4 linked regions of the Homo sapiens genome follow. The protein of the gene in region 3 interacts with the protein of the main gene of each other region in a biochemical or structural test. Each region holds a gene or a part of one and is shown on either strand. Other genes may lie near its edges.

Region 1 (3,500 bases), on a different chromosome or scaffold from region 3:
TTTATTACTCATTCTGCCTGCTAAGTATAGGTGTTTTCCAAGATTCTTCTCTTTCTCCTTTACCCTTTGCCGGGTTCAACCATTTTTATAACTTAAACAAAAATCATCTCTTCCCAAATGACTTGTAAATATTTACCATAATTTATCATAAATTAAGTTGCCTACCAGACATTTGTCTTCAGATATCAAATTCAGCATATCCAAAATAGTACAAAATATCTCCTCACCAAAATAAGATTATCCTGCTAACTTACTGCTTCTAGTATCACTTCCATATGTCTGCTTCCTCAAATATGACCCTTATTTGTTGTTTTCCTCTGGTCTGTCATTATAAGATCCTTTCCATTTTTCTTCAGTAATTTCTCTTGGGCCTTAGGTCCTTTACCAAGGATCTAATTAGAAAAAAAATTACATTGGAGGAACTCCTTTACTTAAAAAAACTGTTTTAAGGTGAAAGGCAGCATGGAGTGTTAAAAGAATGTTTAGCTAGGAGATGGAAGACTTGTTTCTAGATCTGGCTCTGCGATTGATTTGGGGCAAGTCCTTTTACTCACTGGGGCCTTACTTCCTTTATTTTAAAGTGAAGAGGTTGAATTAGTGGATTTTCTATTAAGTCTTCTGTATTATATGTATGTCCTTTCTTTCTCCCCCTGCCCACACCACTTCAATAGTGTCTGCAGGCTCTGGAGTTCTTGCATTCGAACCAGGTCATTCACAGAGACATCAAGAGTGACAATATTCTGTTGGGAATGGATGGCTCTGTCAAGCTAAGTAAGTAGGAGCCTTAGGAATGATAATACTTCTCTGCCTGTGGGGCCCTGTCTCCTGTGAGATGGTCATCATATAATAGTAACTACGACACTCACCAAAGGGTCTTTATGATTTCATGGGATATGAGGGCTGTTTTATATTTTCTGTATTAATCATAGGATATCATTTCATTATTTTTTCATTCATTTATACATTTAACAACAACCACAAAAAACTTTGCTGAATGGTTACTCTGTGCTAGGTCCTGTGATGGGCACTGAGAGTAAATTTTCCCTACCTTCTCAATCTAGTATGGAAAACGTGTAATAGATAATTAGAAAAAAGAGTTTTGTATAATTTCTTTCATTCAGTTATTCAGCAAACTTTTATTGAATGTCCAGTACATGCTGGTCCTTCTAGGGATATGAGGACAAGTAAGAGGACATAATCCATACTCTCAAAGGCTTCCTAATTTAAATAAATTTATAATTGCAATATAATGTAAAAACCATGGCAGGTAGAGCATTTTGTTCAAAGGTGTAAAGACCAGTAGACCAGACAAACAGGCTGTGTCATGGGTGGATGGGCAGTTTATGGAAGGACTGCTAGCAGCCCTGGGTCTGGGGCATAAAAACAGGGCCATGCCTAGTCATAGGTGATTGGGGTTTAAATCAAGGACTCGTGCCCAAGGAATAAGACAAGGACCTAGTCGCCAGATTTGGGATTATGGGAATGGTTTTTCAAGAACAAAGCAGAATTGGGATGAGCAATCAAGACCAAAATGGGCAGCTTGGACTTTAACACTAAGTCCCCTGGTTTGAGGAGAAGTAGGAGGCCAGAGATGGTGTTTCTTATATTCCTTCTATTTCTCTTCAGGGTTCAATAGGAAATAGGCTAGGAGCTAGACATGAAGGTGGTAGTCAAGTGACTTTGGAGAGACAAAGGATAGCAGAGCTGGAAGCCAGGCGGATCTTGTCACCTATGTGTAGGTACACAGTCAACACTTACTGAAGTGAGTGTATATCCTAAATGTATGTTCTTTCTCTTATTTTTCTTTTCTAGCTGACTTTGGATTCTGTGCACAGATAACCCCAGAGCAGAGCAAACGGAGCACCATGGTAGGAACCCCATACTGGATGGCACCAGAGGTTGTGACACGAAAGGCCTATGGGCCCAAGGTTGACATCTGGTCCCTGGGCATCATGGCCATCGAAATGATTGAAGGGGAGCCTCCATACCTCAATGAAAACCCTCTGAGAGTGAGTGTTACCAGTTCTATTTCAAGTTATTTGGGCTGTTGTCTCTAGTCCCAGGAAATAAGAATCCAGGGTGTTCTCTGTGGTTTTCAACCTGGAGATCCCTTTTCTGGATACAACTAGTCACTGTTGAACTTAAAGTATAAATGGCCAAAGAAAAGGAATATTAGAAGTCACTCATTCATTTATTCAACAATTATTTGAGTCCCTGTCAAGTGCAAGAAACTATTCTAATGAAAATAAAATAAATTAATATGTAGTAACAGATGGTAAATGCTGTGAGAAAAAGCAAAGTAAGGGAGTTAACAGAGTAATGGAGGAACAGGTGTGCTATTTTAGAGTAGAGAGGGAAGTTCTCTCTTATAAGTTATTTTATTCTGCAGAGTTGGGAAGTCATTAGAGGGTTTTGAGCTGAGGAGTAATGTGATCTGATTTATGTTTTAAACAGATCATTTTGGCCGCTTTTATGGAAAATAGACTGCGAGAGACTGTTGTAATAGTTCAGAGTGGTGGTGTCTTGGTAGGAGTGGAAGTGAGAAGTGGTCAGATTCAGGAAATTAAAGGACTAGCTGACAAGATGAACTGAATATTAGAGAAAGAGGAATCAGCAATGACTACAAGATTTCTGGTCTGAATTGCTGAAAAAATTCAGTTGCCATCTGTTGAAATGGTGAAGAGCATACTTAAGTTGGGTAATAAAGAGTTGGTTTTGAATGTGCTGATTTGAAGTGTTAATTGGACATTTAAGTGGAGCTGGAGTAGAGTTTGGCTTAAGAGTCTGGAGTTCAAGGGTGAGAAGTCAGGACTATAAACATAAATTTATTAGTAGATAATATATAGTTGGTATATATAGTAGGTAGATGAGATCACTCACCTAGGGAATGAGTACAGTTAAAGAAAAGAGATTTGAGTACTGAGCTCTAGGTTATTCCACTGTTTACAGGTTGGAAGAACTAGCAAAGTAGACCAAGGAGTGGCCTTTCTAGTGTGAGAGAACAGAGAAGTGTCTTGGAGGTGAAGTGTCCTGGAGATGAAGAGAACAGTGTGCTTCCCGAAGGAGGAGGAGGGTAGATTATGTGTCAAATGTGATTGATAGGTTAAGATGAGACTGAGAAATGAACATTGGATTTGCCAATGTAGAGGTTCTTAATGACCTTAATAATCAGTTATCAGTAGAGAGATGGGGATGAAAGTCTAATTAAATTCATGAAAGTGGAAGAAGAGGACATTGAGATGGCATGTATAAACAGGTTTTTTTTTCTCTTAAAGGAATTTTGCTGGGAAGGGTAACAAAAATGGAGCACTATCTTAAAATGGAGTCAAGGGAGGGTTTTTCTAAAAGATGATGTCTGTGTGCTAATGGGAATGATTTAGTGGAGAGGAGGAAAATGGTCATGTACAAGAAGGAAGTGACAACCATAGAAGTGATATCCTTAAGTCGATGAGAGGGGTTCGATCAAGTACTGAAGTAAAGGACATTAGATTAGCATGGAC
Region 2 (2,531 bases), on a different chromosome or scaffold from region 3:
AGTAAAATAATAGCTATTGTGATACTATAAAACCAAAATTATTTTGAACTCACTAATAGTAAGATTGAATGTTTACAAACAGAAGCATAGAGTCCCCAACTTAATTTTTTGACTTTACAATGGTGTGGAAATGACAGGCATTCAGTAGAAAGCATACTTCAAGTACCTATACAATCAATGGTTTTCACTTTCAGTGTTCAACAAATTACCTGAGAGATCCAACGCTTTAGTATAAAGTAGGCTTCATGTTCTTTGATTTTGCCCAACTGTAGGGCTAAGTGTTCTGGGCACATTTAATGTAGGATAGGTTAAGCTATAATGTTCATTAGGTCAGGTGTATTCAGTGCAGTTTTGACTTCGTATTTTCAACTTGCAATGGGTTTATCAGGGTGTAGCCCCATTTTAAGTTGAGGAGTATCTGTGTCTGAACTCTTACATTCCTTTTGAATATCCACTGAAGCACAATTCTAATAACAGCCAAGGCACTCACAATCACATAATTAACTTTGCTAGTTTTAAAATGTCCACTTTATTCCATATAACACTTAACCAGATATCATTTACATCTGAGGAAGAGATGGCCCATGAGACTGATCTATAGTAAAACACTCTAAGAAATGCAGTCCAATTTTATACACTTCCAGGCATCCCTAGACAAGTGTGTCACAATGCACAATGTGGAAATATAGGTATCACTACTACATTTTACATAAAAGGGAAGTATCAATAAACTTTAGAAAGTAGTAAATTCACCTGTCCCTTAAAATATGGGTATGCAATTGTTACAAAGCCATAGTAAATGGTTTATAAAATGTACTTTTATTTTATGTTACTCTGCTGTTACATAGGGCATAACATTTTCACAAGGCTTTTTTGGGACTACAGTCAATGATTAGCAACACACAATAGTGGTCCAACTCTCTAAATAACAATCACTAGACAAACTGGACACCCTCTCACATGTGCACAAATCTGCATGGAAAAGTACTAAAGTTTTAGACTTGGACTTGTGTACTTTAATTTATTTCCCCTTTCTAGTGTATTAAGAAATGACATGCACTTTAATTTGCCAAAAGCAATGCTTGTATTCTGGCAGCAACATGCTACTTCTATCACATAGTAAAGTGAATACCAGAACTACAAAGGCAGGAGGTGTAAGTGAATTTTTATTGGGAGGGGAGGTTGGCAACTTAAACAGCAGCAAATAAAGAGTGAATAAGGAAACTCCCTGTTGCCACAGATACACAAGACCTCCGTATGTGATACAGGAGCCATTTCAATTTGTGACCCCTAGACAGAGATGGCAAGTGCTTTTCCATTCAATCTAATACTTCCGGATTCCTACTAAAAAGGAATACATTAAGAGCATGGAAAAGTTGCTTACTGAAAGGAAACCCCCGAAGAGTAAGGGAGGGAATGTAGAAATTAAGAAGTTATGTGGAATACTCTTTAAATTGTAATTAACTACATTTTCTTATTTTCACAGTAATACAAAACACAGTCACTTGCAGAACTGGTTCAGATTACTTAAATACCAGATACATTTTTAGTCCTCTACATAAGTGTTTGGGAGTTACTTATGTTTATATGAAATGAAGCTATTAATACTTTTCTACAGCAGTACTGCACACCAGGAAGGCCAAGACAAACACAAATCAAGGAATGAAGTTTTCCCAAAGCTGCAGTGTGAAAAGACTATAAACAGTTGATTCCATACACATGAATGGGTTTCTTTGCTATAGGAAATCCAAGTGGAATAAGGAATGGAGATGTGTAAAAAGGTTTCTTGAAGGAAAGAAGGATGACACCCTGTATGGATTTAGTTTTCAGCCCCTTCTGCCGCATCACATTCTTCTCCTGCACTGTCTGATGTCCAAAGCTAGAAAAAGAAGAATCATATTAAGTTACTATTTCTAGATTAGGCAATTACACTAAGTAGTATTGTTATATCAAAATTAACTACAAGAGTAGTAAATTCCTCAAACAATGGAGATCTTGACTAAGACTGAAGTTCTCTCTCAAAACCCCAAAGACCATCACCTTCCCAAAGTACATCCTTGCAGACCTTTCACTATGCACTTACAAAATGACATACATACATACATACATATACCACTGGAGCATGGTTTTATAGCTTCCTTTTTATTTAAAAAGCATTTGGCCAGGCACAGTGGCTCACGCCTGTAATCTCAGCACGTAGGGAGGCCAAGATGAGAAGATCGCATGAGGCCAGGAGTTCAACAGCCTGGACAACATAGCAAGATCCCACGTCTACAAAAAATTTCAAAAACAAAATTGGCCAGGTACGGGGTGGTGTGTGCCTACAGTCCTAACTACTCAGGAGGCTGAGGCAGGAGGACTGCTTGAATCCAGGAGGTTGAGGCTGGAGTGATCCATGATTATGACACTGCACTCCAGCCTAGGCAACAGGGTGAGATCCTTTCTCAAAAAAAAAAAAAAAAAAGAGAAACTTTTTTAAAAAGGCACTCTACTTTCAGAATAAGCAAAGTGATAGTCTCTATTCCCAGCAG
Region 3 (4,068 bases):
CCCAAAGTGCTGGGATTACAGGCGTGAGCCACCGCGCCCGGCCAATCTACTTCCTTTTTTAAGGAAGAAGATTTTTGTGGTCTTTTAGTATAGCAGTTAAATCATACCCTAACTAATATAAGGCCTTACAGTGAAAAAGTAAGTTACTCACCCAACCTTGGTCTTCCATATTATTTTTACACACATGGTAGTATACACTTTACATTGTTTTAAACCTTGCTTTTTTCACTTAATATGTTTCAGTTGTGGATCTACACCAGCCCTCATAGAGCCATCTCATCTTTTTAACAGTTGCATAATATTCCATTGTGTGAATGTATTATAAATTACTAAGGAGCTCCTTGTGGGTGGACTTACTCTTAATTCGCCGCAGGTAAGCCTCATCCTCTGTCTCAATCAGGGGGAAGTCCTCCCTGGATGGGCATCTGGAGGGGTAACAGGTCGCATGCCATTGAGAGACAGAAGCTAGGTTATAGACCAGAATCAGCCTTCCCTCCTTCCCAAACATGCCTTATGCTTCCATCTTCTGATAAGACTCCTCAGCCTCACACCCTAGCTTTAATTTAGTCCTGACCTTCTCCCTTTTCTTTCTTTTTTTTTTGAGACGGAGTCTTACTCTGTCACCCAGGCTGGAGTGCAAGGGCGCTATCTCAGCTCACTACAACCTCCTCCTGGGTTCAAGTGATTCACTTGTCTCAGCCTCCTGAGTAGCTAGGATTACAGGCACGCACCACCATGCCTGGCTAATTTTTGTATTTTTAGTAGACATGGGGTTTCGTCACGTTGGCCAGGCTGGTCTCAAACTCCTGACCTCAGGTGATCCTCCGCCTCCCAAAGTGCTGGGATTACAGGCATGAGCCACCGCGCCCGGCCGACCTTCTCCCATTTCTTAGCACTGATTATCTGCGTTTACTGAGATATATCTCTCCAAAGGTCGCTTGGAAAGGCAGCACAGTGCAGAGGGTCAAGTACAGGCTTTGGCATCAAGCAAACAGGATGCAAATCCTGGCTCCACTGTTTACCAGGTGGTAACCTCTCTATTTCCTCATTTGAAAAATGAAGGTAATATCTTCCTCATAGGTTTTTCATTAGGATTAAATGAAATGTTAAAGTGCTTTGAACATAACAGAAGCTCAACAAATCAATTACAATTAATATTATTAATTTCCACAATTATAATTTTTTTTTTGAGAGAGAGTCTTGCACTTTCGCCCAGGCTGGAGTCCAGTGACAGGATCTTGGCTCACTGCAACCTCTGCCTCCCAGGTTCAGGTGATTCTCCTGCCTCAGTCTCCCAAGCAGCTGGGACTACAGGCACGCACCACCATGCCTGGCTAAGTTTTATATTTTTAGTAGAGACAGGGTTTCGCCATGTTGGCCAGGCTGGTCTCGAACTCCAGTGGTCCGCCTGTCTCAGCCTCCCAAAGTGCTGGGATTCCAGGTGTGAGCCACAGCGCCTGGCCACAATTATAAATATTAATACTATTAATAAAGAAGCCACTACAGATCTGTCAACAGGACAGGTTATTTTGAACTGCTTTCTTGGAATAGGCAATTTCATAATTTTTTTTTGGAGATGGAGTCTCACTCTGTCACCTAGGCTGGAGTGCAGTGGCACAATCCTGACTCACTGCAACCTCCACCCCCGGGTTCAAGCGATTCTCCTGCCTCAGCTTCCCGCGTAACTGGGATTACAAGCTTATGCCACCACGCCCGGCTAATTTTTGTATTTTTAGTAGAGACGAGGTTTCACCATATTGGCCGGGCTGGTCTTGAACTCCTGACCTCAAGTGATCTACCCGCCTCAGCCTCTCAAAGTGCCGGGATTACAGGCGTGAGCCACTGTGCCTGGCCTGCAATTTCATACTTTTATATGCATTTCTAAAAACCTTTTCAAAATTCCATGGTGCAGAAGTTAAAAAAAAAAAAAGGTTTACAAATTATAAAGTTGAGAACTGATTCCCTGAAAGCTAAAGAAAAATTATAAAAATCTTGGCTGGGCATGGTGGCTAATGCCTGTAATCTCAGCTCTTTTGGAGGCTGAGGTGGGCGGATAAATCTGAGATCAGGAGTTCGAGACCAGCTTGGTCAACATGGCAAAACCCCGTCTCCACTAAAAATACAAAAATTTGGCTGGGTGCAGTGGCTCATGCCTGTAATCCCAGGACTTTGGGAGGCTGAGGCGGGTCGATTACGAGGTCAAGATATCAAGACCATCCTGGCCAACATGGTAAAACCCCGTCTCTACTAAAAATACAAAAATTAGCTGGGCATGGTGGCGTGAGCCTGTAGTCCCAGCTACTCAGGAGGCTGAGGCAGCCCGGCAACAGAGACTCTGTCTCCAAAAAAAAAAAAAAAAAAAAAAAATTTGCCTGGGGTCGTGGTGGGCACCTGTAGTCCCAGCTATTTGGGAGGCTGAGGCAGGAGAATCGCTTGAATCCAGGAGGTGGAGGTTGCAGTGAGCTGAGAGCGAGACTCTGTCTCAAAAAAAATTAAAAAAAAAAAAGAAAGAAAACCTGTAAAAATCTGAATTAGAATTACACTTACACTTCATTCTTTAGGCATAATCTTCCAGAATCCATTTTAAACATCTTACCTGTGCTTTATTTGATGTTTTTTCCCATCACAATTAGACACATAGTTGACTGCCTCAAATCTAATGTGTGTCCAATAGAAGCTAAAGATTTGCTGCTTTGACACACTGATTTCCTTCTTGCTTCTATTGTGTTGAGTCTGTTTATGAGACTTGTTCCTCTCTAGTATCGATGCTTTCATTATCCTCTTTTTCATTCATTTTTAGAAAAATAAATGTAAAATACAATACAATCCAAATAACAGCCCTCTGCCTACAGATGAACATGTGAATGCAGCTGAAATTGTACTGTTGGCTGGCAGGTATGCCACCATGTGACAGCTCAAAGTATTCCCTTGCTTGTCAGCTCATGCTGAATTTGAAAGGGAGTTGAGGTTGGCAATGTATAAAATGTGGCTTTACAGGACATAAGAACATAGGTGACCTTTCCAGTCTTGGGCCATTTTGTCTCTCCCTCAACCTCTTCCCCCACCTCTGAATGCTGGATTCTGTTCCCAGGGAGTTCTATGGTTGGGATCTAATGCTGCAGGTACCCTGAGGTCATAAGCACATGCAGGCGGCAGGCAGACACTCACGTGCGCACGCTCTGCTGAATGACCCGGATCCAGGTGCTCCGGTCATCCCGGGATGCTGTGTGCACCTCGTACATCTCAGGTGGGGCTGCGCTGATCAGAAACATCCCTTTCTCCTGGTTGGCAATGTCTCGTACGATTAGATTCTGCAGCGATACCACTGAAGGCTTGTCCTGCCAGTCAGGGGAAAGGAAGGATTAAGCCTGGGAATCCTGTCCCTTGGCATATTTAGGCCTTCAATCCTTCTGGACGAGGACTGAAAGGACTGAAGAGTCATCTTACAATACCAGTTAAGAGCCAGGCACTGGTGCCAGCCAGAAGGGACTTAGAAATGTGTGCAACCCTTGACAAATTATTTAACTGACTTGAAGCTTTACTTTCATCATCTATAAAATGAGGACGAAAATAATCTTTTCCCACAGGTGTAAAAGTGCCTGTGCACAGTAACAGTACCTGTGAGCTGCTCTTATTTTTTATTATTACGGTAATAGTAACAATTATAGCTGTTTGACTCTGGGGGACTCCAGAGCTCTCGTGGGCTTGGGCAGGAAAGCAAGAAGAGACTAAAACACTTGTCTGTGCTGAGAAAGGTGAAGAATGAATGTCTCACCAGGGTAGGAAAGATGTACTTCTGGTCCTTTTCCTGGAGAAACACCAGTACATCTGTCATCAGCAGCACTAGCACATCTGGAAGGGGATGAAGGTGGGAGAACAGTCAGCACTAGACGGTCTGAGCAGCTGCTTCCCTCTTTCCCAAGGACCAGGCTTATCCCATCAGGTTAGAGCTCCCAGTTTCCCTCTTCCTGGCCTCTCTTCCCTCTGGCTGCTTGCACTTTTTCAGACCTCTCACACCTCACCCATTCTATTTTTTTTTTTTTTTTTTGATACAGAGTTTTCATCTTG
Region 4 (3,500 bases), on a different chromosome or scaffold from region 3:
CATGGTGGTGGGTGCCTGTAAGCCCAGCTACTCAGGAGGCTGAGGCAGGAGAATCGCCTGAACCTGGGATGCGGAGATTGCAGTGAGCAGAGATCATGCCATTGCACTCCAGCCTGGGCAACAGAGCAAGACTCCACCTCAAAAAGAGCAAAACAAAACAAAACAAAAAACAAAATCAACTCCTCTATAAATCCTCTTAAAAGGTTCCCTCTGATAACAGGAAGACATGATAAAGCAAATACAGCAAAATGAACAAGTAGAGCAAAATACTGTCATAGAATCCAGGCCATGGGTATGTGCATGTTGACTGTACAATGCTTTCCACTAGTCTGTTTGAAATTTTTCATATTAAGACATTGCAGGAAAATATTCCTACTGATCACATGCAATCCTGCCTTGGTGGCAAAGACTCTTGACAAAAACATCTCCTTTCAAGGAAGACTACAATTTTAAGAGCTACGTAGTGATGGAGATGTGAAAAAGTAGGCAGTACTAAGGTATCAGATGACTAATGCAAAAAGACAGAAAGTTATAAAGGGTGAATTTAAGGTTTCTAAAAATGGCTTCCTGATGCTCCTCCCACTTAGCCCAACTCCAAACTTTTACTGTAACTATCATTTGAAATTAAAACACACACACACACACACATTATGTATAATTTTTTTGGCTTATCAAGAAAAAAAACCACATTATGTATAAAATCATCAACAAAGATCAGAGCCATATACTACACCTACATTTGGAGGCCAGTGCAGAATTCAAATACCTTTACCACAGGTCAAAAATATGAAACCCCATGCCTTGAGAGGAAAACACACAAAACAGCTGAAAAGCTTAAACAAATTCATGGTTCACGCCACCACCGTTCAACAGAAGTAAAGAATAAATGTAAAGAATGTTCCTGTAAGGATGATGTCACGGAAGGCATTTTTCACATTCAGCTAAGAAACTCCTGGACAGTAATGTATGTCCAAGTCAGACATTGGGCTAGACAGGCCACTAGCCCAATCTGGACTCCACTTTGTATAAAGAGTGAAACAGAGAGGGCTTCAAGTCATTCGTTCCCATTCCTTTAATCAACCAACACCAAAACAACACTATTAAAATAGTTGTGGCCGGGCGCAGTGGCTCGGGCCTGTAATTCCATCACTTTGGGAGGCCAAAGCAGGAGAACTGCTTGAACCCAGGAGGCAGAGGTTGCCATGAGCCCATATCATGCCACTGCACCCCGGCCTGGGTGACAGAGCGAGACTCCATCTCAAAAAATAGTAATAAGCAATAAAAAAATAAAAAATAAAATAATAAAACTGTTGTTTAGGCCAGGGACGATGGCTCACGCCCATAATCCCAGCACTTTGGGAGGCCAAGGCGGGCAGATCGCCTAAGGTCAGGAGTTCGAAACCAACCTGGTCAACATGGTGAAACCCTGTCTCTATTAAAAATACAAAAAATTGCCAGGCGTAGTGGCTCATGCCTGTAATCCCAGTACTTTTTGAGAGGCTAAGGCAGGTGGATAACCTGAGGTCAGGCGTTTGAGACCAACCTGGCTAACAAGGAGAAACCTCGTCTCTATTAAAAATACGAAATTAGTCAGTGTGGTGGAGCGTGACTGTAATCCCACCTACTCGACAAGCTGAGGCAGGAGAATCGCTTGAACCCAGGAGGAGGAGGTTGCAGTGAGCCGAGATCGCACCACTGCACTCCAACCTTTGCAAAAAGGGCGAAAACTCCTTCTCAAAAAAAAAAAAAAAAAAAAAATTACCTCGGCATGGTAGCAGGCACGTGTAGTTCCAGCTACTTGGGAGGCTGACGCAGGAGAATCACTTGAACCCAGGAGGTGGAGGCTGCAGTGAGCCAATATAAAATAAAAACAAATAAATAATAAAAGTTGTTTATAAATACCTGAATGTAAGATGCTGTCTTTTTTTTCCTTTTTGAGACGGAGTCTCACTCTGTTACCCAGGCTGGAGTGCAGTGGCACGATATTGGCTCACTGCAACTTCCACCTCCCTTGATTCAAACAATTCCCCTGCCTCAGCCTCCCGAGTAGCTAGGATTACAGGCGCCCCCCACCATCCTTGGCTAATTTTTTTGTATTTTTAGTAGAGACAGGGTTTCACCATATTGGCCAGACTGGTCTCGAACTCCTGACTTCAGGCAATCCGCCTGCCTTGGCCTCCCAAAGTTCTGGGATTACAGGCATGAGCCATCGCGCCCGGGTGATGCTGTCTTACCTAGGAAAAGCTGAGAGAAAATCTTGGGGCAAAGGTCCACTAAGTGAAAGTTAAAAGGTGGGGCAGCAGTAAGGTGGAGGAAAAAAAAATTATAGACCCCATGCTCAGAAAGGACTATCTTAGAATAAAAGAGTATCAACCCTATGTAATATTTCTTGGCCAATCTCAATTAAATTGCTATTCAGGAAATCTAGAATTTTCTAACATGCTTTGCAAATTATTTCTGACTTTTTTTCTTTTTTTTTCAAGACAGAGCCTTGCTCTTGTCGCCCAGGCTGGAGTGCAGTGACACAATCTCAGCTCACTGCAACTTCCGCCTTCCGGGTTCAAGTGATTCTCCTGCCTCAGCATCCTGAGTAGCTGGGATTACAGGCGCCCACCACCACGCCCGGCTAATTTTTGTACTTTTAGTAGAGACAGGGTTTTGCCATGTTGGCCAGGCTGGTCTCGAGCTCCTGACCTCAGGTGATCCGCCTGCCTCGGCCTCCCAAAGTGCTGAGATTACAGGCATGAGCCACCGCACCTGGCAGACATATTTTCATACGGGTGTATTATCAGTCTCTATCAGTCAGGGTCCCAGAAGGAAAAAACTCATCCCAGAAGATTGAAATAGAGATTTTCATGAAGGAATTATTTACACAGCCCTGTATGCAGAGTTAAGGAGCAAACAAGATGGCAAGGCATCCAATTCTAGAAATGATAAGACAGAACCATCCCTAGGGATGATGAGACAAGGAGCAGGAGTTTCCTTAAGAGCCCAGTGTAAGCAGAGGCACAGGAGGGCAGGATGGAGGGACGTACAGCCTGAAAGGACACTGCCATGGTCCAGGCAAAGGGTCAAAGCAGGAACAGATGAAGATGTATCTCCTTTAAAAACAAACAAACAAAAAAAGACAGTTTCCCTCTGTCACCCAAGCTGGAGTGCAATGGTACAATCTTGGCTCACTGCAACCTCCACCTCCCAAGTTCAAGCGATTCTCCTGCCTCAACCTCCTGAATAGCTAGGATTACAGGCGTGCCCAGCTAATTTTTCTATTTTTAGTAGAGACGAGGTTTCGCCATATTGGCCAGACTGGTCTCAAACTCCTGACCTCAGGTGAACCGCCCACCTCGGCCTCCCAAAGTGCTGGGATTACAGGCTTGAGCTACCGTGCCCGGCCAAAGACGTATCTCTAATAGTTTTTGTTTTTGCTTTTTTGAGACAAGGTCTCACTCTGTCGCACGGGCTGGAGTGCAATGGCACAATCTCAGCTCACTACAACCTCC

Evidence for each region. Proteins that work in one complex are often made in the same cells at the same time.
Region 1: the proteins of ARHGEF2 (region 3) and PAK1 form a complex in vitro, tested with the Homo sapiens proteins (one study listed by BioGRID).
Region 2: the proteins of ARHGEF2 (region 3) and YWHAQ form a complex in vitro, tested with the Homo sapiens proteins (one study listed by BioGRID).
Region 4: the proteins of ARHGEF2 (region 3) and RAC1 form a complex in vitro, tested with the Homo sapiens proteins (one study listed by BioGRID).

Annotation. Positions count from the first base shown.
Region 1 is NC_000011.10:77,334,595-77,338,094, reverse strand, and holds part of PAK1 (serine/threonine-protein kinase PAK 1), read left to right. Parts: intron 1-671; coding exon 672-771; intron 772-1,812; coding exon 1,813-2,009; intron 2,010-3,500. UniProt on the Homo sapiens protein: Protein kinase involved in intracellular signaling pathways downstream of integrins and receptor-type kinases that plays an important role in cytoskeleton dynamics, in cell adhesion, migration, proliferation, apoptosis, mitosis, and in vesicle-mediated transport processes.
Region 2 is NC_000002.12:9,583,467-9,585,997, forward strand, and holds the end of YWHAQ (14-3-3 protein theta), read right to left. Parts: intron 1,880-2,531; coding exon 1,820-1,879; 3' UTR 501-1,819; downstream 1-500. UniProt on the Homo sapiens protein: Adapter protein implicated in the regulation of a large spectrum of both general and specialized signaling pathways. Binds to a large number of partners, usually by recognition of a phosphoserine or phosphothreonine motif.
Region 3 is NC_000001.11:155,954,545-155,958,612, forward strand, and holds part of ARHGEF2 (rho guanine nucleotide exchange factor 2), read right to left. Parts: intron 3,853-4,068; coding exon 3,776-3,852; intron 3,339-3,775; coding exon 3,169-3,338; intron 426-3,168; coding exon 358-425; intron 1-357. UniProt on the Homo sapiens protein: Activates Rho-GTPases by promoting the exchange of GDP for GTP.
Region 4 is NC_000007.14:6,377,527-6,381,026, reverse strand, and holds part of RAC1 (ras-related C3 botulinum toxin substrate 1), read right to left. Parts: intron 1-3,500. UniProt on the Homo sapiens protein: Plasma membrane-associated small GTPase which cycles between active GTP-bound and inactive GDP-bound states.